4 linked regions of the Homo sapiens genome follow. The protein of the gene in region 1 purifies or fractionates together with the protein of each later gene. This does not show direct contact. Each region holds a gene or a part of one and is shown in the gene's direction. Other genes may lie near its edges. The genes, in order: MTA1, SIRT1, ZNF512B and CHD3.

Region 1 (7,039 bases):
TGCGGTGGCTCATGCCTGTAATCCCAGCACTTTGGGAGGCTGAGGCGGGTGGGTCACGAGGTCAGGAGATAGAGACCATCCTGGCCAACATGGTAAAACCCCGTCTCTACTAAAAATACAAAAATGAGCCGGTGTGGTGGTGGGTGCCTATAGTTCCAGCTACTCAGGAGGCTGAGGCAGGAGAATCGCTTGAACCCGGGAGGTGGAGGTTGCAGTGAGCTGAGATCGCACCACTGCCCTCCAGCCTGGGCGACAGAGTGAGACTCCATCTAAAAAGGCCGGGTGCGGTGGCTCACGCCTGTAACCCCAGCACTTTGAGAGACCAAGACGGGCGGATCACGAGGTCAGGAGATCGAGGCCATCCTGGCTAACACGGTGAAACCCAGTCTCTACTAAAAAATACAAAAAAATTAGCCGGGCGTGGTGGTGGGCGCCTGTAGTCCCAGCTACTCGGGAGGCTGAGGCAGGAGAATGGCGTGAACCCAGGAGGCGGAGCTTGCAGTGAGCCGAGATTGCACCACTGCACTCCAGCCTGGGCGACAGAGCAAGACTCTGTCTCAAAAAAAAAGCCAGGCATGGTGTAATTGGACTGTGGTCCTGGGAGATGGAGGCTGCAGTGACCTGACATCACACTGCTGCATTCTAGTCTGGGCAACAGAGTGAGACCCTATCTCAAAAAATTAAAAAGTTAGGTGAGGCTGGGTGCTGTTTACACCTGTAATCCCAGCACTTTGTGGGGCTGAGGCAGGCAGATTGCTTGAGGTCAGGGGTTCCAGACCAGCCTGGCCAACATGGCAAAACCCTGTCTCTACTGAAAATACAAAAATTAGCTGGTCGTGGTGGCTCACGCTTGTAATCTCAGCTACCTGGGAGGCTGAGGCAGGAGAATCACTTGAACCCAGGAGGCAGAGGTTGCAGTGAGCCAAGATCACAACACTGCACTCCAGCCTGGGCGACAGAGTGAGACCCCATCTTAAAAAAAAAAAAAAAAAGAGTTATAAATAGTATTCCATTAGGCACTTGCACTGTGATTAGAATTACAGCACAATTCTTGCAGTAGCAAAGATGTTATAAAAACTCGTTCAGAAAACATACGTGCTTCTCTGGTGGCGTTTTACAGCCGTCTTGACTTGGAGACGTTTGTCAGCCAGGCCAGGTGGGAGGGCTGGTCCCATGCGGGGGGTCCAGGCTGCGTCCGCCGCTAGGGCCGTGGCTGCTGTGCAGGTCACCCCAGAGGGGCTGGGATAGCTGGGCGTGGCCTCCCAGGAGCTGACTGAGGTCCTACCCAGTGTGGCGGGGGCCTTTTCCTCCTTGGGACCCTGCTGTTCTCAGGTGGTACACTGGGGTCTGGAAGGGAGGGAGAATGGAGACACAGGTTGAGGTTGGGTGCACACGCCCGCCTTCTCCCCTGGGATAGACGCCACGGGCGTCCAGAGCTGCAGGATTTGCTCCATTTGTGAAGTGCCCTCCTGGAGTCCCGAGGGGTGGTGTGGTTACACCTGCAGTCCCTGGACGGCAGGGTCCGGCCTTGGAGCCCCTCCTGGGAGCTGTGCAGCCCGGGTTTGGTCGCGTTTCTCAGACGCCCCTGCCTTGCTGTTACAGACGGCCAATGGGAACGTGGAGGCCAAAGTGGTGTGCTTCTACCGGAGGCGGGACATCTCCAGCACCCTCATCGCCCTGGCCGACAAGCACGCAAGTGAGTCCGGCCTTCCCTGGGGTGCCCGCCTGGCGGGAGGGTCGGCTGGGGAGGGCTGGCGGGGTCCTTCTTCCCTAGGGCCCATCGGCATCCTGGCCTCGTGGGGCCACCCTCTGCCCAACTCACTCTGGCGTCTCTTTTTCTCCCTTCCACAGTGGGCGGGGGTGTCCTGGCTCCGTTTCCTCGGGGGCTGGGTGAATGAAGTCCTCGCACGCCCCCCGGAGTGGTCTGTCTCTCACTGGCATCCTCTGCAAGCTTGTCATGGTGTGGCTGGGTGTGGGCATCATTGATCGAGGCTTCTTTTTCCCTTCTATGATGACTTCTGGAGACTTTCCAGGCTGGTGGGACCCTGCTGCCTGCACTTGCCAATGTCTCTCTCTTTTTAATTTTGCGGAGAGGCTTCTGTTGGGATTCTGAGTAGTGTTTTCAGGAAAGCAGTCCTCTCCTTATTCTTTACGATTCAAACCCAAGTTTAGTAACCTGGCTGGGAGGGGCTGCTGTGGCCAGCACAGCGTGTGGGAGGAAGCCACTGGCTGCATGGGAATGCCCTCAGCCTTGGGGACCCAGCTTCTCCCCCGGGAACAGGTGCTCGCAGGTGGTGGAGTCTCCTGTGCCGGGGGATGTTGACTTCAGAGCCAGGAGCCAGAGGCACCCCCACGCCCTCCACATGCTACTGACACAGGGCCTGCCGAGCTGGGCCCCACCTGCACCAGACACAGTGTGGTACCCCACTGAGGCCCTTCATGTGTCGGTGGGGGCAGGCATGAGGGGCATTTTTGGCTTCCACTCTGACACATCACCTGGGGTGGGATCTGAGCCCAGGCTGAGGCTGTGGTCTGTAGGGTGACATTTCCCAGTAGGTGAGGCATGTGACTGCCCGGGTACCCGTGTCGCTGGGGTGGGCCAAGGTCCCACCTGTAACCTCCCACGACCCCTAATGGGGTGAGGTCCAGGGACTGTGGGTTTGCGGTGGGTCGGGTGGGAGGACCCTCGCATCTTCTGCCCCGTCCCAGCGCTGTGGGTGAGGGGCAGGAAGTCAGCCCAGGCAACCTCCCCCTGCTCTGGGAGGGGCTTAGGGACAGGACAGACCATCCTGCCACCGATGCCTTGTTCCTGAGCCTTTGCTGGGAGTCGGCCAGGGCAGGCGCTTGTGGAAGGAAGGTGTCCCTTAACCCCACTGCCTTGCCCACCGGACAGCTGGGACCTTTCCTCAGCAACCAGTGGATGCGGACGTGAGCTGCCCTGGGTCAGTGCAGCTGGGCCGGGCCCCCGAGCCTGGGTCCACTCTGGACACTGGGCTGTGGGGCCTGTGGCTGGCCCAAAGGGAGCTGCCAGTTGACCATGGGCTTTCTCTGGCTTTGTGAGGAACTGGACCTCCTAGCTCTCTGCTCAGAGGAGGGGAGCGTTCAAGGTGGGGCATGGTGATCCTTGACCTCTGACCCCAAAGCCTGTGTACTCCACTGCTGCACTCGGCGGGCTCCAGGCACCAAGGAGGAGAGCTGGGGATGTTGAAGGTCCACAGGCTACACATTCTGGAGGGGTGTTTGGTGTGGCCCTTGGCCCTGCAGGTGCTGGGTGCCAGTCAGCAGCACGGCTGGCGGTTCTTAGTGTTGGAGGCTGGCCTATGTCGACTCTGCAGGGCTGGCCCGCTGGAGAAGCAGTGGTGGGGAGCGGCCTGGCTCGCTGGAGAAGCAGTGGTGGGGAGCGGGCTGGCCCGCTGGAGAAGCAGTGCCCAGGCTGAGCGGCCGCAGTGTGGCCCTGCCAGTCTGTGTGGCCTGGGGAGTCAGGCGCCACCGTTGAGTTGGGCATGTTTATGGCTGGCCCAGGGTGGATCCTGTCTCTGTCCTCTGGCACCTGGGGGCACAGTGTCCCTGCTCCAGAGAGCCTGTATCAGTGGTTTAGTGGTTTTTGAGGGTACTGTGGCCCCCTTGGCTGAGGTTCTGCTCTCAGACGCCCCAGAGGATGGCCTTTTGCTGGAAGAGCCCCAGAAGGGGACTCCAGACATAACGTGATTAGAGGTATCAGAGGGCAGGTTTTCCAGAAGGGCCTCGTTGGGGCTGATAGGACTGGGTGGAGAGCAGTGTCCCAGCTCGAGCACTGGCCCCCCCAGGTACACAGCACAGCCCCTTTGGACGGTGCTCCCTGGAAAGCTGCGTGGCGGCCCCTCTGCAGGGCGTTCCTATGAACTGAGAGCCCAGCTGCAGGGAGCAGGCGTCATGGGTGATGGGTCTGCCGCTGGTCCAGGGACTCAGAGCGCGGCCCCACTCTTGCCTGGCGGCTGGGCCTTGCGGTGATTCTGCAGGGCCCACACCCCCCGGGGTTGTGTCAATCTCCGTTTCTCCTGCTTCTCTGTGAGCTCATGGCAGCCAGGGTGAGGCCCCCAGCTGATCCCAGGGACAGGTGTGAGGACACTCTGGGAGGCCTCTGGCTCTCCCACGTCACTGCCTCCACCCAGCCCCTGCTGGGGCGTCCAGCCCACAGTGCAGGCCTCAGGGTGGAGGGTAGACACCCGCCAGGCTGCACTGTGGCCCCTGTGGCAGAGAAGCCCTCCCCCCGGCAGGGCTGTGAGCATGAAGCCTTTCTCAGGACAGAATGACAGGGAGAGGGGAACGTCCCTCCTCAGAGGAGGGCGTGGGGGCCCTGGAGACCACAGCCAAGAGTGGGAGTGAGGGCACAGCCTGGGCCTCACGCTTAGGGGTGTATCCAGGGTCTGAGGGAGGGTTCAGAGTGTGAGGGGTGCAGGGTACACTAGCCAGCCCCACCTCCTGCCTGGGTGTTTCTGCCTGTTGAGGGTCTTCTGAGGAGCTGTAGGCCCACCTCGCCCGCATCTCCGACAGGCTGCACCACAGAGCCCTGTTCTGCTGACCGGGACGCTGGTGAAATGGGAGTTTCGGAGCCGCTGTGGGCTCCTGTCCAGGCTGGGTCAGTGCTCGGATGGGGCCTGGCATAGGGCGGGCGTGAACAAAAGCCAGCCTCTGGTCTGGGGCTGGTGTGTGGGCCTCTGGGCCCTGGTGATGTCTGAGTTCAGGGTGCAGTTTGCTCGTGGGTCCCCAGAAGTGGGAGCGAGTGAGATGTGTTGGCCTGGGATGAGAGGACTGGGGCTGTCCTGGTCGGCCCTGCCCTGTTCTATGGACCGGGAGGAGGTGAGGCTCAGCCGCCAGACACCCCAGGCTTTTGAGGCCCAGATAGGGCCGGCCCAGAACAGGCCCAGCATGGCTGCTCCCAGCCTCAGTCTTAGCTGTTGGCGCCTGGGAGGGCCCAGAGGAGCCAGGACTTCCTGCAGGCACCACAAGGGGGCCGCAGAGAGCGAGCAGCCCGGCTGGCTGTGGTCCCATCTGGGGACCTTGGGCTCAGAGAGCCGGCAGGGCGCTGAGCGGGATGAGTGGCCCACTGGCGGCCGGTGCTGAGCGTGCGAGGGGCGGTGGGGAGCACCACTGCACGCCCCCATTTTGGGTGTTATAAGAACCCTACTTGGGTTCCTAGCACAGGGCAGGAATCCCCATGCTGCTGGCCGGTGCCCGGCCCCGGTCTCATCTGGACAGCCTGTTCTGGGAAGCCCCAGTGGAGTGGGGGCAGGGGTGGCCTCTGGACAGGGGCCCTCCACAGCCAGGCTTGTCTGGGCTCTTCCCAAAGAGGCTTGGCACTGGGTGGATGGGCAGCCAGAGTGGGGGGACGTCGAGGCCCAGATGATCTTCAACCGGGTGGTCTTCACGCCCCACCGGGAGGCCTGCGGCCCCCGTTCTGCCCTGCCCCCTGGCGGCACAGCCCTCGGTCCGGGCCCTGGGCAGGGAGCAGGCCGCCACCCTGTGCTGACCGTGCTGCCGGGTGCTGTCTGTCTGTTATATAGCCCTGTCAGTCTGCTATAAGGCCGGACCGGGGGCGGACAACGGCGAGGAAGGTAAGAGCCGGCCTCCGCAAGGAGGGCGTCCTCCTGTCTGTGTCCCTGGGCTGGGGGCGGCAGCGCCGCTGAGGGACAGAGTTTGGGCGGGCCGCCTGCATGCCTGTGCCCTGCGCCCGGCCGGCCCGGCTGAGGAGGGGCCCTCCCTTGTGTCCGGCCCACGGCCCAGGCTTGGTGCGGCCCCGGCCTGAGGGTGACCTGCTGGTGTGGGAGGTCTGTGGTGGGCTGTATGGGGCTGTCTGGCCACGAGATGGGGACGGACAGAGGGCGGCTGCCCCTCGCCCTCCTGGCCTGGGCTCTTGGCAGCCGCCGACTCCCCCGCTCCTCTTGCTCTTGCCTGCTGCTTCTGGGGCTGGCCCGGACCTTGTTCTCCCTCCTCCTTCCATCTTCATGCCCTGGGGAGTCTGGGCCTTTAGGGTGCCTGGACTTAAAGGGCACGTGGGCACCAGAGTGTCTGCAGGGGTACCTGCCAAGGAGCCGCCGGGCCGCCATAGGGTGGGGCAGTGGGACAGTGTCCGGCAGCAGGAGGAGGCACGCCTCCCAGGACTGGGCCTCCTGCGTGCTGGCGCCAGGTGGGGCTGGTGGGGTGGGCCTTGGTCTGGCAGTGTGCGTCTGCCGCGGTGCTGACAGGGGCTCCTTGTCCTTCAGGGGAAATAGAAGAGGAAATGGAGAACCCGGAAATGGTGGACCTGCCCGAGAAACTAAAGCACCAGCTGCGGCATCGGGAGCTGTTCCTCTCCCGGCAGCTGGAGTCTCTGCCCGCCACGCACATCAGGTAGCCCCCAGCAGCTCCCGCCCTGGGCCCCTCGGGCTGCCCTCGCCTTTCCAGCCTGCCCGTCCTTCTCTTCCAGGGGCAAGTGCAGCGTCACCCTGCTCAACGAGACCGAGTCGCTCAAGTCCTACCTGGAGCGGGAGGTGAGGCCCAGCCCGGCCTGGTCTGCCGCAGCCAGTCCCGGGCCACTGTTTCCTCTACCTATGACCTCTGCTGGCCTGGGCGGCGGAGACGATTTTCCCTCCTCCCTCTAGGCCCAGGCTGTTCTGGGGGGAAGCGGGGATTGCGTCCTGACTGTCACTTCCAGGTGTCCTGGTGTGTGGCCGCCCCCACCCTACGCGTCCAGAGTTGTGGGCCAGGAGCTTGGAGCTCTTTCCTCTTGCCACTGCCACCCAGACAGCCAGCGAGGGGAGGTCCCCCTGGGGAGGGTGTGGCTGAGGCAGGTGGGGGCAGGGGCCACCTGAGTCTTCGCAGGAGTCTTGGCTGGTCTCTCCTGGGCGGTGGGCAGAGTCCTGGTAGGCCCACCTTGGGGGTCACTGTGATTATACGGTGTTACCAGGTGATTCTTATCTGGGGGTCACCTGTGATTATACGGTGTTAACCTGCCGTATAGCATCCCCCAAGGCGTGACAACCAAAAAATGTGTCCCGACAATGCCATACATCCCTGGGGA
Region 2 (6,899 bases), on another chromosome or scaffold:
ATGCTGGACTAATTTTTAAAGGTTTTGGAGAGATGAGGTCTCACTGTGTGGCCCAGGCTGATCTCAAATTCTTGGTCTCAAGCCATCCTTCCACCTCAGCTTCCTAAAGTGCTGGGATTATAGGTATGAGCCATTGTACTTGGCTAGGACATTTTTTCACTACGTATCCCTGACTACTAATAGGTTTGAGCATATTTTAAATTTTTATATTGTCAAATATTTTTATCATTTAAAAAATGGCTCCTGCCTTGCTAAAAAGTTCTTTCTTGATCCAAAGTTATAAATATTCTAAAATGTCATATTTTTATTTTTGTATTTTTTCATTTAGATCTTCAATCCATCTGGAATTTTTAATTTTTTATATTTTTGAGATGAAGTTTTGCTCTTGTTGCCCTGGCTGGAGTGCAATGGTGCAATCTCGGCTCACTGCAATCTCCGCCTCCCAGGTTCAAGCAATTCTCCTCCCTCAGCCTCCCAAGTAGTTGGGATTACAGGAATGTGCCACCACACCTGGCTAATTTATTTTTTAGTAGAGTCAGTAGTAGTTTGTCCATGTTGGCCAGGCTGGTCTTGAACTCCCGACTTCAGGTGATCTGCCCCCCCTCAGCCTCCCAAAGTGCTGGGATTACAGGAGTGAGCCACCGCGCCTGGCTGGAATTTATTTTCGTATATTGTGTGAAGTAGGGATTTCCATTTGTGTTTTTCAGTTTTGACAATAACATTTTATTAGTACAAAAGAGTTGATACTAACTCCCTTACTAATTGTAGTCACATGAGACTGATATCAGAGCTATTAGGCCAATTTATTTTTTTATTTATTCATTTTTTATTTATTCTTATTTTTATTTTTTTTGCGATGGAGTCTCACTCTGTCGCCCAGGCCAGAGTGCAGTGGCGCGATCCCGGCTCACTGCAAGCTCCGCCTCCTGGGTTCACGCCATTCTCCTGCCTCAACCTCCCGAGTAGCTGGGACTACAGGCGCCCGCCACCACACCCGGCTAATTTTTTGTATTTTTAGTAGACACGGGGTTTCACCGTGTTAGCCAGGATGGTCTTGATCTCCTGACCTCGTGATCCACCCGCCTCGACCTCCCAAAGTGCTGGGATTACAGGCGTCAGCCACCGTGCTTGGCAGGCCAATTTATTAACTTAGGAGAATAGAACTACTAAGTCAGCCAGAATATTAATGTTCTTTTTTTTTTTTTTTTTTTTTTGAGACAGAGTTTCACTCTTGTTGCCCAGGCTGGAGTGCAATGGCACTGTCTCAGGTCACTGCAACCTCCACCTCCTGAGTTCAAGCGATTCTCCCGTCTCAGCCTCCCGAGTAGCTGGGATTACAGGCGCATGCCACCACTCTGGGCTAATTTTTGTATTTTTAGTGGAGACGGGGTTACATCATACTGGTCAGGCTGGTCTCGAACTCCTGACATCAGGTGATCCGCCCGCCTTGGCCTCCCAAAGTGCTGGGATTTATAGGCGTGAGCCACAGCGCCTAGCCTTAATGTTAGTTCTTAACCAGTGGTAGACCAGAAGTCTAATTGGGATTTTTTGTTTTTGTGTTTGTTGTAATACAATTTCTGTTTCTCATTTATCCTACCTGAAAAGCATACTGCATCTCTGACCTCTCAGCATACTAACAATAATATTGATCACATAGCATTTCTTGTAGTTCATAAACTTCACGTGTCAATAATATACTATAAATATAAATGAATTAATGAACAACAGGATGCTCATAAGCTTACAGACATCTTTTTCTCAAAAAAGCTGGGAATTTTGTTTCTGTTTTATTGGGATACTGACTCTCAACATTTCATATATTGCATTCCACCAACGTAGCTGAGAGTCAATTTATGAAATATTTTGTAGTGTAAGACAGAAAGTGGGGAGGACCAAGTATGTCAACCACTAGGAGTGTGGTGCCTAGTCAGGAATTGGGAGGAGTGTAGCAAGAAAGGAAGGACAACAGGATTTGGTCATTGATTGGTCAGATGGATTTCAGAGGGATTGGTATGAAGGAACGCTTCAAAGATTTTTTTTTTAATTTAAGTTCCAGGATACAGGTGCAGAATGTGTAGGTTTGTTACATACTTATAGGTGAGCCATGGTGGTTTGCTGCACCAATCAACCCCTCATCTAGGTTTTATTTATATTTTTTTTTGAGACGGAGTTTCGCTCTTGCTGCCCAGGCTGGTGTGCAATGGTGCGATCTCGGCTCACCGCAACCTCTGCCTGCTGGGTTCAAGCGATTCTCCTGCCTCAGCCTTCTGAGTAGCTGGGATTACAGGCATGTGCCACCACGCCCGGCTAATTTTGTATTTTTAGTAGAGACGGGGTTTCTCCATGTTGGTCAGGCTGGTCTCGAACTTCCGACTTCAGGTGATCTGTCCGCCTCGGCCTCCCAAAGTGCTGGGATTACAGGCAGCAGCCACCGCGCCCAGCCAGGTTTTAAGTCCCGCATGCATTAGCTATTTGTCCTAATGCTCTCCCTCCCCTTGACCCCCACGCAACCAAAGATGGTTTTAAGGCTTCTAGGACTGGAGATGATTACTTTCAGAAATGAATAGTGGTGACCAGATGAAATAAGACTTTTGGATGTAGATAGGACCTTAGCGATATATTTCCAGCTTTTTATTTTTTATTTTAAGGATGAAGAAACAGCTTTAAGTTGGTTGCCTAAAGTCACGCAGGTAATTGATGCAGTATGGCCAGAACCCATACTAGGCTTAAGGGACAGTGTACCATAAACTCGTAGAGGTCCTTTAAACAGATAGAAACGCTGTGCTCCAGGCAGATGCCATAACAAACACTGGCTCTAGATCTACCATGGGTTATATGGGTCCTTAGTTAAGATTAGATATGGAGTCACAGTGTGCCAGAATTTCAGGGAGAGAGGAAAGTGGAAGGGCTTTCCACTAAGCCTTTTGAACTACTAGGTACCCCTCGTTTTACATCTGGTTATCTCATTTAAATCTATGACGTTTTAAAATACTTATTACCATTTAAGACATGAGAAAAATTAAGTTTAGAAACGGCTAGATAGCTCACGCTAGAAAGGAAGGACTCCAAATTTTAACCAAGGGCAGATGTGCATGGAGGCCAAGTCATTTCCTTCCCATGCTCTCATACTGACCCAACAAACCCATTCTGCACGTGAGAAAACTGAGGCCCGGAGGAGGGAATTCACACACGTTTGAAGCCAAGCTGGGGCCAGAAAGTAGATCGGCTGATCTCCAAACCTCCACGTCAAAGGTCTTCCCAGGAGGACATATGCCTTCAAGGATTTTACAATGTATACCACCCTACAAGTGATGGGAGAGAGGGGAAAAAAGCAACCGACTAAGGAGAAAAGCAAGGAGCAGAAAAAGGAGCAAAAGAGGAGCTGTCAGAACGGTGTGAGGAGAGTGGGAAAGGAGCCGCCTCCTTTTGCCTCTCTTCCTACTTATTAACAAAACAGAACGACTATCCAACGTATTTCAGGGAGCTAAGTCTTAGCCAGCTTCAGCTGTGTTTTAACCCTTAGCTAAATATAGACAAGGCTAAGGCAGGCCAGGTGTACACTTCAGGAAGACGTGGAAATTCCCAGGGCGGACCAAAACTTGAGCTGTTCCGGCGGTAGTGATTTGAGGTCAGTTTGAAAGAGAAGTTGAGAAAGCGGCCGAGGGGCGAATTTGGCTGCACTACACGCTCGCCACAAAGAGGAAGGGCCGCCGGCCGCCGGGGCCGAGTGCGCTTCCAGCCCAGGCGGAGCGGTAGACGCAACAGCCTCCGCCCGCCACGTGACCCGTAGTGTTGTGGTCTGGCCCGCGTGGGTGGCGGGAGCGCCGAGAGGGCGGGGGCGGCGATGGGGCGGGTCACGTGATGGGGTTTAAATCTCCCGCAGCCGGAGCCGCGGGGGCGCCAGTGCCGCGCGTCGAGCGGGAGCAGAGGAGGCGAGGGAGGAGGGCCAGAGAGGCAGTTGGAAGATGGCGGACGAGGCGGCCCTCGCCCTTCAGCCCGGCGGCTCCCCCTCGGCGGCGGGGGCCGACAGGGAGGCCGCGTCGTCCCCCGCCGGGGAGCCGCTCCGCAAGAGGCCGCGGAGAGATGGTCCCGGCCTCGAGCGGAGCCCGGGCGAGCCCGGTGGGGCGGCCCCAGAGCGTGAGGTGCCGGCGGCGGCCAGGGGCTGCCCGGGTGCGGCGGCGGCGGCGCTGTGGCGGGAGGCGGAGGCAGAGGCGGCGGCGGCAGGCGGGGAGCAAGAGGCCCAGGCGACTGCGGCGGCTGGGGAAGGAGACAATGGGCCGGGCCTGCAGGGCCCATCTCGGGAGCCACCGCTGGCCGACAACTTGTACGACGAAGACGACGACGACGAGGGCGAGGAGGAGGAAGAGGCGGCGGCGGCGGCGATTGGGTACCGAGGTGCGCAGGGTGCGGGCGGCCGGAACTGCGCATCTCCTCCTCCCTCTCCCCGGGCTCCTACTGGCCTGAGGTTGAGGGCGGCTGGGGGCTCGGGGCAGGCTCCGCGGCGTTCCCCTCCCCACCCCGGCCCTCCGTTCAGCCGCGCTCCTCCGGGGCTGCGGTTCCTACTGCGCGAGCTGCCAGTGGATTCGCTCTTTTCCTCCGTCCGTGGCCCGCCTGGGCGGCCTTGTTCTTTCCGCAGCAGCCAGGTCGGGAGACTCTCGCAGTCGCTTTAAAATAAGTTTCTCTCCCCCTCTTACTCTTTTAGCATATTGCTTTTGTTAGAGCTTTTTTTTTCTTTTTCTTTATTTTTTATTTTCATTGCTTTTCTCCTCTACCCCCCAGCACACTTAAGTCTGCAACTTTTTGGCTGTCCCGTTGGTCTGCGTTTTCAATTGCTTTTTGCAAACTTGACACCTGTGCAGTTTGCTTTTTTTGGTCTATATTTTTATGACTGAAATTACAATTTTTGAAAGAGGAAAGCTGTTTCTATAGTCACAGCTTGCAAAATTTAAAGAACGTGGCTGTTCCTGAAGACATTACCATTCTGTAATGCAGTTAGGAGTGGGTATGGGAGAGAGAGTACTTTTAGAGCTGTTCATATTACTTTTATTCTAATCTTGCTCTTGTGCGGTAATGGTGTTTGGGCTAAACATGCTTTTTTTGTATGTATGTAGTATTGAGACACAAACTTAACACTTCTAGCATAATGAAGCAGATATGTTGCAGTTGTCATGTTCTTGAAGGTTTCTTTTTTTTTTTTTTTTTTTTTTTGAGACGGAGTCTCGCTCTGTCGCTAGGCTGGAGTGCAGTGGCGCGATCTCGGCTCAGTGCAACCTCCGCCTCCCGCGTTCAACCGATTCTCCTTCAGCCTGCCGAGTAGCTGGGACTACAGACACCCGCCACCACGCCCAGCTAATTTTTGTGTTTTTAGCAGAGACGGGGTTTCACCATGTTGGCCAGGATGGTCTTGATTTCTTGACTTCGTGATCCGTCCGCCTCGGCCGCCCAAAGTGCTGGGATTACAGGCGTGAGCCACCGCGCCCGGTCAGGTTTCTTATTTTTGATCTGAGGAGTTTCTATCCTTGATAGGTGTTCATCTTTATCAATATTTGGGTCAGGCCGGGCGCGGTGGCTCTTTCGTGTAATCCTAGCACTTTGGGAGGCCAAAGCGGGAGGATCTCTTGAGCCTAGGAGTTTCAGGCCAGCCTGGGCAACATAGCGAGACCTCCTCTCTACTAAAAGTAAAAAAAGCGGGACGTGGTGTCGCACACCTTTAGTCCCAGGTACTAGAGTTCGAGGTTGCAGTGAGCTGTGATCCTGCCACTGCACTCCAGGGTGGGCAACAGAGTGAGACCCCGTCTCAAAAAAAAAAAAAAAAAAAAGTAATATGTGTTTTTAGGGACTGATTTAGTAAAGAGACCCTGATTTCAAGCAACACAGTTGAGTACTAATTTATTATTTACCTAATAATAATTGTGTTATTAATACTGTTTATTTAATAGAGGAAACAATGCAGAGGTACTTGTAGTATTGTGTAAGTTTAACGTGCGCATTGCCAAGGTTATATTTGAATGACGTTTTTATGTAAATGTCCATTTATTACACGTTTCACGAACGCTATTGTTTGTGATTGTATGATACATTCTAGCTAGATTATTATCTTTTCTTTTTTTTTTTCCTTTTCTTTTTTTTTAAAAGGTGGAGTTTCGCTCTTGTTACCCAAGCTGGAGTGCAATGGCGTGATCTCGGCTCACCGCAACCTCCGCTTCCCGGGTTCAAGCCATTCTCGTGCCTCAGCCTCCTGAGTAGTTGGGATTACAGGCATGCGCCACCATGCCCGGCTAATTTTTGTATTATTAGTAGAGACGAGATTTCTCCATGTTGGTCAGGCTGGTCTCGAATTCTCAACCTCAGGTGATCCGCCTGCCTCGGCCTCCCAAAGCTCTGGAATTAGAGGCGTGAGCCACCGCTCCCGGCTATCTTTTCTGTTTTTTAAGTAGACTTAATTTATTTTTAGATTTTGGCTGAAACTGAGTGAGCAGAATTCCTAAAGATGAAGAAACTGTTCCAATGAACAGTGCAAGCTGACCCCATAGGCATGCTTTACACACGCCGTGTAAATGTTAAATGCTGTACTCGATGAAAATGATTGCTCTATAACCGTTCATACATTTTAGGTGCATGTTGTTTTGATAGCCTTGACTGACTTGGTTTCTTTTGCAGATAACCTTCTGTTCGGTGATGAAATTATCACTAATGGTTTTCATTCCTGTGAAAGTGATGAGGAGGATAGAGCCTCACATGCAAGCTCTAGTGACTGGACTCCAAGGCCACGGATAGGTATGGCTCAGAGCTGTTAATTTTAGAGAGTAAATGTACGGTTTTTGGTTTGTTTGTTTTGAGACAGAGTTTCGCTCTTGTTGCGGAGGCTGGAGTGCAATGGCGCGATCTCGGCTCACCGT
Region 3 (3,766 bases), on another chromosome or scaffold:
CACCGGCCGGAAGGTGGGAGTCAGCAAGGCGCCTGAAAAGTGAGCATGGTGCGTGGGGCCTGGCCCCCATGCAGCCGCCACACCGCCCTCTGTTCAAGGCAGGGCCAGCTCCGGGACCTCTGTCCTCCAGTTCTCCATCCCCCACCCCCGCCTCTTCATCCGTCCAGTGGGGCAGCCAGCCACTCTCCCTTCCCTGAAGGTGGCCCTTCCCCTGTTAAGGCTGCCACAGGGCACACCTGGGTTGGGGCTCCCCAAGGTGTGCCCAGCAGAAGTGCAATAGCCAGGAGGGTTGCCCCTCCTCATGGGAATGTGTCTGGGGTCTTGGTGCCACAGGGGCTGCAGCGCAGAGTAGGCAGATGGCCTTTGGCCCCCCGGCTCCGCTTCCTCAGGCCCTGCCGGGTCCCTTCCCTGGCTACCCCAAGGCTCAGGCATCCCTGGTGACCTGTGGTTCTGGGCTGGTGAGGGCACCTGAGCAACCTGGCACGGGCAGCCACCATCCTGGCCTCACCTCCACCCAACACTGGAACTCCAGCACCCCCAGCTACCTCCCAGGACAGACCCCTGTCTGACCACTGCCATGCTGACCTGACAGGCTCCGGCCTGCCCTTGGCCACCCACTTGGTCCCCTTGCTTCTGTTTTCTACCTCTCCAGGCCTGCCCACTACCCCCACCCCTGCTCCTCCTTTGTCAGTGCGATCCCTGCTGTGCTCAGGCCCTGCCCCCCAGGCCTGTCTGTAATTCTCCCAGCTTGGGGCAAGGGAGGGGTTTTGCTTCTTGTACCTACAGGGCAGCAGAAGCTTGATGCCCTTCAACACAGCTGCCAGCCCTGGGGGTGTGGGGCCCCTGGAGTGTGCTCTCCTCCAGTGTTCAGCCTTCTGGCACTGCAGGCCTAGGTTGGAGCAGCCTCGTGGAGTAGGGACGGACTAGTTCGGGCCCTGGGGTCTTGCTGGGGCCCATAGGCATGTGGGGCAGGAAGCTGGGCAGAGCTGGCCTGGCTCTGAGTGGCCACTGGGGGAAAGGCAGCCTTCTGTCTGCCAATCTGGGTAGGCCCAGTGGCCAAGCTCTCATGGGAGCCCCCTCCCCACTTTTTTTTTTAACCTGCCCCCATTGTTTCTGGTTGTGTGGTCATTTGATATGGGAACTGAAGGCCAGCCAGGGGAGGGGCTTGGCCAAAGTCACAGCAGGTTGATGGCAGCTCCAGAGCTGTCTTTGCCCCTTTGTGGCCCTGAGGACGGCTGGGTCTATAGGTAGGGCAGGGGTCAGGCAGGGAGTCCAGGGTGCCTGGAAGAGGTGGCCACAGCCTGTGGCTCCCTCCCTGGGGTCCTGCCTTCCAACCACGGCATTGCAGGGAGGATGAGGCTCAGAGGGGGTAGGTTTGGAGGGAGGCCATTTTCCAGGGTGGGTGGGAGTGGGCTGAGGGCTCGGCCCCACTGACCCTGGACGATGAGAATTTTGATGTTTGCCCGTGTGCGTGTGTCTCCTGGGTGTAGTGGATGCCAGTCTTGTTGCTGTGACAAGTAACAACCTTTTTTTTAAATTGTTTTTTATACAAACACTCGCAATCCGACATTTGGTGCTAAGGGTTTCCTGGTGCAGACGGTGGGCCTGGGGGCTGGGCTGGACCAGGGCGTGGGTCTCTGGGGTTGGGGTCCCTTGCTGCTCAGGGAGGCAGTACTGACTGGGCACTGCCTCTGCCCCCAGCACCCACCCTCCCCCATTCCCCAGGGAGAAGGGGCCCCACTGGGCTTGGCCTGCAGTAGTAGGGAGACAAGTTCCAGGAGCACTTTGGGGACTGGGGTTGCAGAACACTTCCTGTCTCTGGCTTCATCCTTGGGCCAGAAGGCTCCAACCCTCAGCAGCCCTTGCCAGATGTGCCAGGGAGTGGGTGTGGAGACCCGGACTCCCCCCACCCACGCACACCTCGGCCTGATGAGAGGATGGAGGCTGGGGCAGAGATGGGCGTGACCCAGCGTCAGAGGGTCGGGGGAGGCATTCCTTCCTGTGTCCCAGAGCTTCACTGGTGGAGCTGGAGGAGCCGGAGGTGGAGGGTGGGGTCTGGCAGCTGCTGCTGGGGCAGCCTCATGAGGGGAGGGGAGGGGAGGGGAGGGGAGCAGGCACTGGGCGGGGGCCTAGGTGCACTTTGTCCTTGCCACCAATGGCGGGAGGAGGGTGGACCTGAACACCTGCAGGGTGTGGTGCCTGCCCCAGCCTCTCAGGTACTTGGCCCTTGGGGAGAAGAGAAGAGGGTCTGGTTTTTGCTGGGGGTGAGTTTCCGGGACACTCCCAAAGCCCACAGATAATCCCTGGTGTGGGAAGAGGAGTCCTGGATACCTTGATGTTTAGCACTTTAACCCCCTTTGTCTTTAAGGTAGGCGTGGGGGCTACTGCCAGAAGTGGCTGTTGGGTCTGACCCCCTCCTTTCTGCCCTCCCTCTGCCACATGCTGGTCCGCAGAGCCCTCCTCCCAAGGGGTGGGGCCCTGGGTGGAGCTCAGCAGGGTCTGCCCACTCCCTACGCTGGCCCACATAGGCCTCCAGGAGCCCTCAGTGAGAGGGACCAGCATAGCTGACCCCCAGAGTGTGGTGGGCGCCGGCCCTGCCCGAGGCCCAGTCGGGGCCCTTTCTGCAGATCTACCTCTGGCTCAGCGCACGCCCCCTGCCCTGAGAACAGGAAAGGGCCCGGAAGGGCTGACTCACCGGGCCGACGCTCACACGAAAATGGGATGCACTTTATTTGCTGGTGCAAAGGCAGGTGAGGGTGCCTCCTGTGTGACCGTTGGCCCTCCTGCCTGGTGGCGCTGAAGGGAAGGAGCCAGTGAGCCTGACCCCGGGAGGGGCCGTCCCCGTGTGCCGCGTTTGGCGGGGCCCCAGGCGGCTCCCCCAGGCCCGGGTCTGGGGCCCCAGGCTTTCCCCTGCCTCGCGGCCGGGCGTCCCGTGCTTTGGGTTTCTTGGTTTGGGTTTTTTAATGCCAGTTCTCAGTACATAAGTGCATTTTGAAAGAGGTTCCAGCTATCACTTGTAACCATATATATATACATATATATTCTATCTACAAAGTGTTTATTTGCGAGATGTTTCAACGGTGAGTTCGGGCCCCGCCCGCCTTGTGACCATCTGTCCCCGGTCCTCGTCCCCGCCCCGCGCCCTGGTCCCGAGTGGCGTGGGGACGGGCCATCACTGTATGTATTAAAATGACTGTATCAAATAAATGTTTATTGATTTTTTTCCAGGGTTTTTGTGCGGCTCAGTTTGTGGTGAAAAACAGGGGGCGGGGCCCTCCAGGCACGTGGCGGAGGCTGCCGAACTACGGGTCCCCCATGCCCGCCGCGCGGCCTTGTGGGGCTTGTAGTCCGCGACGCGCGGCCTTGTGGGGCTTGTAGTCCGCGACGCGCGGCCTTGTGGGGCTTGTAGTCCGCGACGCGCGGCCTTGTGGGGCTTGTAGTCCGCGACGCGCGGCCTTGTGGGGCTTGTAGTCCGCGGTGGGCAAGAGAGGGACCCGCCAGCTCCCGGCGGCCCATGCGCGCCGCCCGGCCAGGCCCGCAAAGAGGCCTCCGAGCGCCATGGCTGCGCCCCCGGCCCGCGCGGACGCTGATCCTTCGCCCACGTCGCCACCTACGGCCCGAGACACACCAGGCCGGCAGGCTGAGAAAAGCGAGACCGCGTGCGAGGACCGGTAGGCGTGGGCCTCGCCTCCACTCCACTGGCGAGCGGGAAGGGGCTGCAGATCCGGCCGAGCTGGGCGGGTGGTCCGTCCCCGCCGCGAGCCCA
Region 4 (7,867 bases), on another chromosome or scaffold:
AATTTATGCTGATGTCAGACTGAGCATGAGTACTGATTAATGCCCCCCCTCAAATATTTTTTATAAGGGGGGAGTTAGTCACAGCAGCCATTTTTGTTTTATGCAGAAATCCTTCATGCCCCCCCAACACACACACACACACACACACACTTCAGTACACAAGGAAAATATCTCTATTAATCTGTGCACTAATCAGTTATGAAAAAGGAGAAATTTGTGGGTTTCTGGGTAAAGGCTTGGAGATGGGGGTGTAACAGGGAGGAGAATGGGGGGGTGAAAAATGAAATATTAAGCCAGCCATTTTGTTTGAAAAGGGGATTTTCCCCCCTCTCCCTTTCTTTATGGAGGGGGTGGCGGTGCTGGAGGGGGGGTTGTTTTAAAAATAATTTCAAGGCGGCCATCTTAGTGCCTCAGCTCTGAGAAATATTTCTGAGCGCCCCCCTCAGAATTTAAATATATTTAAAGCAACGGAGAGGGGGGCAGAGAGAAGTCGAAAACTTTTATATATATACATATATATATATATATATATGTATATATATATATATTTTAAATCCCCCTTTCTTGTTCTCTTGGGAGGAAAGAGAGAAGGAAAAAAAGTCTTTCCTCAATTTTTTCCAAGACAATTTTTGGGGGTGGTTTGGCCCCCCTCCTCAGACGGCGGCCCCGAGGGTGGGGGTTTCGGAGGGGGGTGGCCCGGGGGTTTGGGGGGCTGGGGGAGGCGGTGAGGAGGAGGAGGACGCCGCCGCCGAGGAGGAGGAGGAGGAGGAGGAGGAGGAGGAGGAGGAGGTGGTGGTGGTAGCGGTGGGGGAGGCGGGCGGGCGGTGGGTGGGGGGGTGGTGGGGGGGCCAGAGCCACAGGATGGCTTCCCCTCTGAGGGACGAGGAGGAGGAGGAGGAGGAGATGGTGGTGTCGGAGGAGGAAGAAGAGGAGGAAGAAGAGGGCGACGAGGAGGAGGAGGAGGAGGTGGAGGCGGCCGACGAGGACGATGAGGAGGACGACGACGAGGGAGTACTCGGGCGCGGGCCGGGCCACGACCGGGGCCGCGACCGCCACAGCCCCCCCGGCTGCCACCTCTTCCCGCCGCCGCCGCCGCCGCCGCCACCGCTGCCCCCGCCGCCGCCGCCCCCGCCGCCAGGTAAGCGCCCGCCCCGACTCCCCCCCCAAGCCCGAGTGGGAGCCGCGGGCGCGCGAAGCCGGGCGGGGGCGAGGCACCCACCGCGCGGCCGAGCCGAGGCGAATCCGGAGCGCGAATCCGGGGCTCGGGCCCGTGGCCCCGCGGCGGTCCGGGAGGTCGGGGCGGGCGGTGGCGGCTGCGACCGCGGGGCCAGGCCTCCTCCCCTCCCCCGCCGCACCCCTCCCCCGCCGCCGCCGCCGCCGCCGCCGCCGCCGCCGCCGCCACCCCGGCTGGAGAGCGCTGGGCGCGAGCTGCGCGCGCGGACCGGGCCACTCGGTCGCGGCTTTCGGGGGAGGAGGAGGAGGAGGTTTTTTTTTTACCCTCGGCGGGGAGGGGGTAGGCAGGAAACGGCCAAGGCGAAGCCAGGGCCCCCTCCCTGGCCGAGCGAGGGACCGCCGAGACCCTGGCGGCCGGACGGCGGCGTGGGGGAGGGGCACGTGGGGGAGGGGCGGCCGCGCGAGCGCCCCTCGGGCTCTGGCCCCGGTGGGGTTGGACCGAGGGAGAGTGGGGTTTCCCCGCACGGAGCAGCCGACGGGCCTGCCCCCTCCGCTCAGGACTTGGACAGGCAGAGTGGGGACGGTGTCCATCGGACCCCCCTCCACCCGCGGAGACTTAGGTGCCCGCCAACTGAGGGGCATGCGGTGGCACGCGAGGGAGGGGTCTTGTGAATGTTTGTGGGCTGCTGATGAGTAGGGGCAGGTGGTGGCCACAGTCCACGCAGACCACTTCCTGGAATAAGGCAGGAGCTCGTCCCCTCGCTCCCCCAGCCTGTGCAGGGACAGCAGTCCATTCGGATTGGGGAGCGGAGAGAAGAGTGTCTGGGGAACCAGATACCCCCGGCTCCACCCCCTTCATCTCGCCGGGGCTCTGGGCTCTTTTGTGTCAAGTGCGGTGGGGGGGGTCCCCCTCTTGACCCCGTCAGTCTGGGGTGGCCAAGCTGCCCAGCTGTGACTCTCACGTGGCTGCCATTCACTGTCACTCACTCTCTCGCTGAAACCACCCACTCCCTGAGCACGTTGGGGGGCGTGAACTGCCCACCCAGCTGTTCTGCAGCTTGACCATCACTCAGCACCCGTCCCCCGAGGTGACAAGTCACCCGGCGGCACTCTCTGGGCGGCGCTCTCCAGACCGCTGCGCCGCGTCAGGCGCCCAGCGGTGTCCCCCTCAGACCACCCTCCTAGTGGAGTGATTTCTAGTCTTCTTTGGGATAGGTGAGCATCTGGGTGTCCACACCCCCTGCTTGGGGAACAGCAGGGGGACCTCCGCACCCCCGGGCCTCTGGCTGCCATGCGGCACAAATGCACCAAACTTCAAAACGGCCAACTCCGGGCTCTTTGTAAAACTGTCATATTGATCCGTGTGGCTTCTGTGGCAAACGTTCCTGTCTAGCCGAGACGACCTTTGGGGGAGCGGGGGGTGCTTTCTTGTGGGTCGGGGAGGGATGTGTGTCTCCTGGAAACTGGATAAAGTCTCCCCGCCCCCCAAGCTTGTCTGAAAAAGGGTAAAGTTTTGAAAAAGTTCTCCCAGAGAGCCCCCTGCCTTGGCAGGAGGAGGAGGAATGAGGAGTTGTGGGGAGAGGGTGCCTTTGGGGTTGCCTCCGGCAGAGGCGCTGAAAAGAGGGAAAGAAAGGCCGTCAGGTCCTGCCAGGGGCTTGGCAGCGCTCACCTATTTGTATTGGGACTTGGAGTCTGGGGTGGGGTGGTGTGGGTCCCGGATCTGGGTACGTTGGGGAGAGAAGCGTGAAAGGATCCGAGGTTGAGATGGGTCTTTGTGTCAACCCGGCCTCCCCTTTCCCTCTTGGCTTTCTGAATAGACCAGAAGAGACGTCAGAGGCTGCTTACATTTTACAACTGAAATGAAAACCCACCTCCCCTCTCCCCCTGGGCAATTTTTATCTCCCTTTCAGCCCTCCAAGTCGAATGAGTGACCCAGATACACCCCCTCAGATGACTTTCGGAGGTAAAACTTCGGGAAATTATTTTTAGCACACTCATTATTTCTGTCTACCTAAGTGTGGGGAAAAGAACCCTCCTCTAAGGAAATTTGTTCAGGCTGCCCTCGCTCTTCCTTGTCTAGAGTATGCATTTGTGCACAGGAGAGATTTCCATTGTTTTCCATTCCGACTGCTTTGATTCTCACCATTTTGTTTTACATTCTTACTCAAGACCAATTTTATCCCTTCCCCCTCTCTCCAGTCTCCTTACATTGTTAAACGTTTAAAATAATAGCAGTCGTGTTGGTGGGGGAAGGGAGCAGGAAGCCAAAAACTCATTTCTTCTCCCTCCCCCTTCTGGCAAGTCGAGAGAAATAATATAACATAATATATAGATGTGATTCCTTGGGGGTGGGGGTGGGGAATGATTGTGGGTGGTGCGGAAAATTCTGGTAGTTTCTTTGCAAAAGGTCTGAAAATACAAACCCACCCCCTGCCTGCAGTACGCATGTGCAGCAGACCTATTATGGTGGTGCGTTGTGGGGGAGGGAGGGGAATTTGAGAAAAAATAAATATATGTGTGAGAGATTGATGGTGAGATTAGAAGAAGAGAGGGGCGGGCGGGAGGCGAGGCTTCGGCCGAGACTCCTCCCGCTTGCTCGGGCGGCCAGGCTCCGCCCTGCGCCCTCCGGCCCCCGCCTCTCTCCTCCCTGCCTCCCTGAGATCCGAGCCGGGGATGTGGGAGAGTCTGGGCTCCAGGCCAGCATTGAGTGGCTGCTGAGACCGAGGTTGGGACTTAGATTTGCTTTATTACCCTTCCTTGCTTTTCCTTGCCGTTCTCGCTTTGCCTCTCCCGCCACCGACGCCTGCCCAAGTTCGGGAACCTCCCGCTGGGGTGGGGAGTAGAGTGAACCGGCTTGTGCACCACCCCTGGCTGGTGGTGGCCGAGGCCGTGTCCCTGAACCTTAGCCAGTTGGCCTGCCCTTGCCACTGCCTCGGCAGCCTGCGTTTCCATGTTCAAGTCAACCGAAGTCCCTGGGGCCAGGGGGAGCCGGCTGCTGGGGCATGGCGCCTTCCTTGCTGACTTCCTATTACAGTCCCCATTCCGTTTCACACCCGGGCTCTGGCAGCCACCCCCCTGCACACACGCACACAGTCCTAGAGTGTCTTCCTGCACAAGGGGACACAGGATGCTGGAGTTAGCAGGAAAGGTGGCACTGAAGGAAGGCGAGGCAGCGACTCTGAGGCAGTGGAAACGGAGGCCTCTGGTGTTAATTGTGGCTAATTTTCCGTTGGCTGTTGAGGGAAGGAGAAAGGATTGTGTGTCCTAGAGCTAGGGGCTGGGCCAAGCCCAGGCTTTCCCATCTTGCATCGGCTGCCTCTCTCTGTACTAGACAGGTCTGGCTGGTTAGTCTAGTGCTTGGTAGGGGAGGGACGTGAACCAGAGCCCCAGGGCCCCAGGTCTGTGGGGCATCCTGTCTTCCTTTATGTGGGGTAACTCTCCGTTCCGTTCCCCAAGCCTTCACAGAGTGACACCTTCACAGATAATGGGGTGGGGGGCCTGGGGTCCTCTGGCAGAGACATCTGGGGAGAAAGCCAGGGACCTATCCCTGCTGAAGCAGGTACAGGCCATCCTCTGGATTTGTGGGCCTGAGAGTGTGTGTGGGTGTGGGTGCGCGCGTGCGCGCGCGTGCTTTTGAGAAGGCATATGCTGGGTGTGTCTGTCTGTGCCTATATCTTTGTTTGGGTCTCCCATACTGCGTATAGATGAATGGGTCAGGATATCTGGAACAAAATATGGAGGTGAAGGGTGAGATCGGGAAACAAAGGGTATGGCCCCCTAGTTCCCAAAGGGAGCAGGGAGATGGGAATAGAATTGAAGGTAGGTTTTAGGCTACTTGGGAGGAGGAATATTTAGGTAATTGTGGAGACTTTCTCCTGTGTGATGAAGGCGGCAGACACTGTGATCCTGTGGGCAAGAAGTAAAAATGACCAGCTGAGGATTTCTTTTCCTCCAGGACTGTGTTGGGGTGACAGGATGCCTGGTAATTATCCGAGGAAATGTAAATAGAGGCCTCCCTCTTGGCAAAAGGATGTCAGGGCCCCAGGGTGTTAGTGTGAGAACCCAGGTGTCCACCTTTGGCTCTCCCTCCCCAGCATCTGGCTTAGGGAGCTGCCAGCTTGTGTCTCCCCACTCCAAGTGCTGGGGTCAGGCCAGGCCAGCAGCTGGGCATGGCTTCCCCAGTTCCTGGGCAGGATGCCAGCTGGCGAAGTGAGGGGGAAGGCAGGAGGAGCCCTGGCGGTGACTGAAAGGACCTGCCACAGTCAGAGCCCATGGCCTGGAGCCTGGTCTCTTGTTAGTAGGAGGGGAGGGAGGGGAGTGGTTTGGCTGCTCTTCTCTTCTGACCCCTGACCTCCCATTCAGAACCAGAGCATCCCAGAGTACTCGAAACACTTTCTGTTTGCATCCAGTGAAGGGAGGCAGGGCTTGGAGGAGTTAATGCTTCCTAGAGAGTGGGAACTGCCGAGGTGGGGAAGGGGCAAGTTGAGGGGCCTCAGAGGCTGGAAACCTAGAGGCTTAGGTTTTCTGATGCTTTTTGCTTCAAAGATAAGGATGACATTCGGCTGCTGCCGTCAGCATTGGGTGTGAAGAAGAGAAAACGAGGACCCAAGAAGCAGAAGGAGAACAAGCCAGGAAAACCCCGAAAACGCAAGAAGCGTGTAAGTGTCAAGAATTCCTAACTCTGTGGCAAGGCTCAAGAGACCCATTCTCAGAGACCTACATTTTCTCTGGTCCTGATTACTGGTGTGGGGGTGGGGTTCTGAAGCCAGGGAGGCTTGATCCCCCGGGCCCCCCACTTCCCTGCCACTGTTGGCCTGTATCTCAGGGATCTGGGACCCTAACTTCATTCACTGCAACCTAGTGAAGAGCCTCGTTGTCAGTGTGTCCTCAGCAGCAAAGAGAAGCAGTTGAAAGCACAAGCTCTGGAAGACTGTATGAATTCAAGAGTCCAGCATTCCTCTGTCTAGGATACCAGGCCGTTTATTTGGCTCTCTGTGCCTTAGTTTCCTCATCTGTAAAAAGTAGATAAAGGCCGGTTGCAGTGGCTCACGCCTGTAATCCCAGCACTTTGGGAGGCTGAGCCGGGTAGATCATTTGAGGTCAGGAGTTCGCGACAAGCCTGGCCAATGTGGTGAAACTCCGTCTCTACTAAAAATACAAAAATCAGCCGGGCGCGGTGGTACGTCTGTAATCCCAGCTACACAGGAGGCTGAGGCAGGAGAATCGCTTGAACCCGGGAGGTGGAGGTTGCAGTGAGCCGAGATCACGTCAGTGCACTCCAGCATGGGTGACAGAGCAAGACTCCATCTCCAAAAAAAAAAAGGAGATAAAAAATTAGTTACTATCACAGGATTGTTGTGAAGATTAAAAGAGGTAAGATATGGTATGTGCTGAGAACAGTTTCTGGCAATGGTAGGGATGAATAAATGTTATTTTTATTTCTTTCTCTTAGGACAGTGAGGAGGAATTTGGTTCTGAGCGAGATGAGTACCGGGAGAAGTCAGAGAGTGGGGGCAGTGAATATGGAACCGGACCGGGTCGGAAACGAAGAAGGAAGCACCGAGAAAAAAAGGAGAAGAAGACAAAGCGGCGGAAAAAGGGGGAGGGAGATGGGGGGCAAAAGGTGAGTAGAATTAGGGAATGAGAGTGAGAAATCTGCATTAAAGACGGGCATGAGGAGGGGAGGAATGGAGACTGGACTGGAGAATGGGGCAAGAAGCAAGAAAGCCCAGGGAAGCTAGTGGGTAGGTAGACAGGCCTGTGTGCGGCCTGGAATAGGGGCTGGAGGAGCACCTACTTCACCAAAGCCCCTCTCCCGCAGCAAGTGGAACAGAAGTCATCAGCAACTCTGCTTCTGACCTGGGGCCTGGAGGATGTGGAGCATGTGTTCTCTGAGGAGGATTACCACACGCTCACCAACTACAAAGCCTTCAGCCAGTTCATGAGGTGCGGTAAGACTGGGGAATCCTCGCTAATTGACACTTTTAATTTGAGGGAGGTCCTGGACCCCTTGGAATCTGATGAAAGCTATGAAACTGCTCTCCAGAGAATTCACGGTGTATACACACCAAATTCTACACGTCATTTCAGGGAACTCCTAGACTCATAAGGATCCAAGAACCCCAGTTGAGAACTCTTCACTGAGGGGCGAGGGGTGGAGGGGCCATCATGATTCCAGTGCTGGGTTAGAGAACTCTTTAGCAACAGAATAAAGTGAGGACAGAATATAGTGAGCCCTCCCCTGCCCCAACAGCTCCATCTTCTGCTCTGTGACTTCTCTCTAGACTGGACCTGAGAGATACCATCAGTGTTCCTGAACTTCCTTAGCTCACTTAGCAGGTCCTGTGCCCCTTCCTTAGGCCCTGGTAATAATGGAGGGTCCACTGCTGGCAGTGGGACCTGAGCTTCAGTGGCTCCTGAAGAAAAGTAGAGAATAGTAGAGTAGAAAATAGCAGAGATGGGCCAGGTGCAGTGGCTCATGCCTGTAATCCAAGCACTTTGGGAGGCCAAGGCAGGTGGATCGCCTGAGGTCAGGAGTTCAGGACCAGCCCATCCAACATGGTGAAACCCCGTCTCTACTAAATACAAAAAAATTAGCTGGGCGTGGTGGCACATGCCTGTAATCCCAGCTACTCGGGAGGCTAAGGCAGGAGAATCGCTTGAACCCGGGAGGCAAAGGTTGTAGTGAGCCGAG

The links.
Region 2: the proteins of MTA1 (region 1) and SIRT1 purify together in Homo sapiens (affinity purification with mass spectrometry; 4 studies listed by BioGRID and IntAct, with this or other methods). This does not show direct contact.
Region 3: the proteins of MTA1 (region 1) and ZNF512B purify together in Homo sapiens (affinity purification with mass spectrometry; 4 studies listed by BioGRID and IntAct, with this or other methods). This does not show direct contact.
Region 4: the proteins of MTA1 (region 1) and CHD3 purify together in Homo sapiens (affinity purification with western blotting; 7 studies listed by BioGRID and IntAct, with this or other methods). This does not show direct contact.

What each region holds. Positions count from the first base shown.
Region 1 is NC_000014.9:105,443,816-105,450,854, forward strand, and holds part of MTA1 (metastasis-associated protein MTA1), read left to right. Parts: intron 1-1,602; coding exon 1,603-1,696; intron 1,697-5,543; coding exon 5,544-5,594; intron 5,595-6,242; coding exon 6,243-6,369; intron 6,370-6,445; coding exon 6,446-6,509; intron 6,510-7,039. UniProt on the Homo sapiens protein: Transcriptional coregulator which can act as both a transcriptional corepressor and coactivator. Acts as a component of the histone deacetylase NuRD complex which participates in the remodeling of chromatin.
Region 2 is NC_000010.11:67,880,757-67,887,655, forward strand, and holds the start of SIRT1 (NAD-dependent protein deacetylase sirtuin-1), read left to right. Parts: upstream 1-3,899; 5' UTR 3,900-3,965; coding exon 3,966-4,395; intron 4,396-4,424; exon of another isoform or gene 4,425-4,643; intron 4,644-6,660; coding exon 6,661-6,777; intron 6,778-6,899. UniProt on the Homo sapiens protein: NAD-dependent protein deacetylase that links transcriptional regulation directly to intracellular energetics and participates in the coordination of several separated cellular functions such as cell cycle, response to DNA damage, metabolism, apoptosis and autophagy.
Region 3 is NC_000020.11:63,956,165-63,959,930, reverse strand, and holds the end of ZNF512B (zinc finger protein 512B), read left to right. Parts: coding exon 1-43; 3' UTR 44-3,227; downstream 3,228-3,766. Other genes in the region: UCKL1 (uridine-cytidine kinase-like 1), read left to right, coding at 3,559-3,671. UniProt on the Homo sapiens protein: Involved in transcriptional regulation by repressing gene expression. Associates with the nucleosome remodeling and histone deacetylase (NuRD) complex, which promotes transcriptional repression by histone deacetylation and nucleosome remodeling.
Region 4 is NC_000017.11:7,883,946-7,891,812, forward strand, and holds the start of CHD3 (chromodomain-helicase-DNA-binding protein 3), read left to right. Parts: upstream 1-4,843; 5' UTR 4,844-4,877; coding exon of another isoform or gene 4,878-4,920; 5' UTR 4,921-5,055; coding exon 5,056-5,155; intron 5,156-5,718; coding exon 5,719-5,831; intron 5,832-6,625; coding exon 6,626-6,796; intron 6,797-6,994; coding exon 6,995-7,119; intron 7,120-7,867.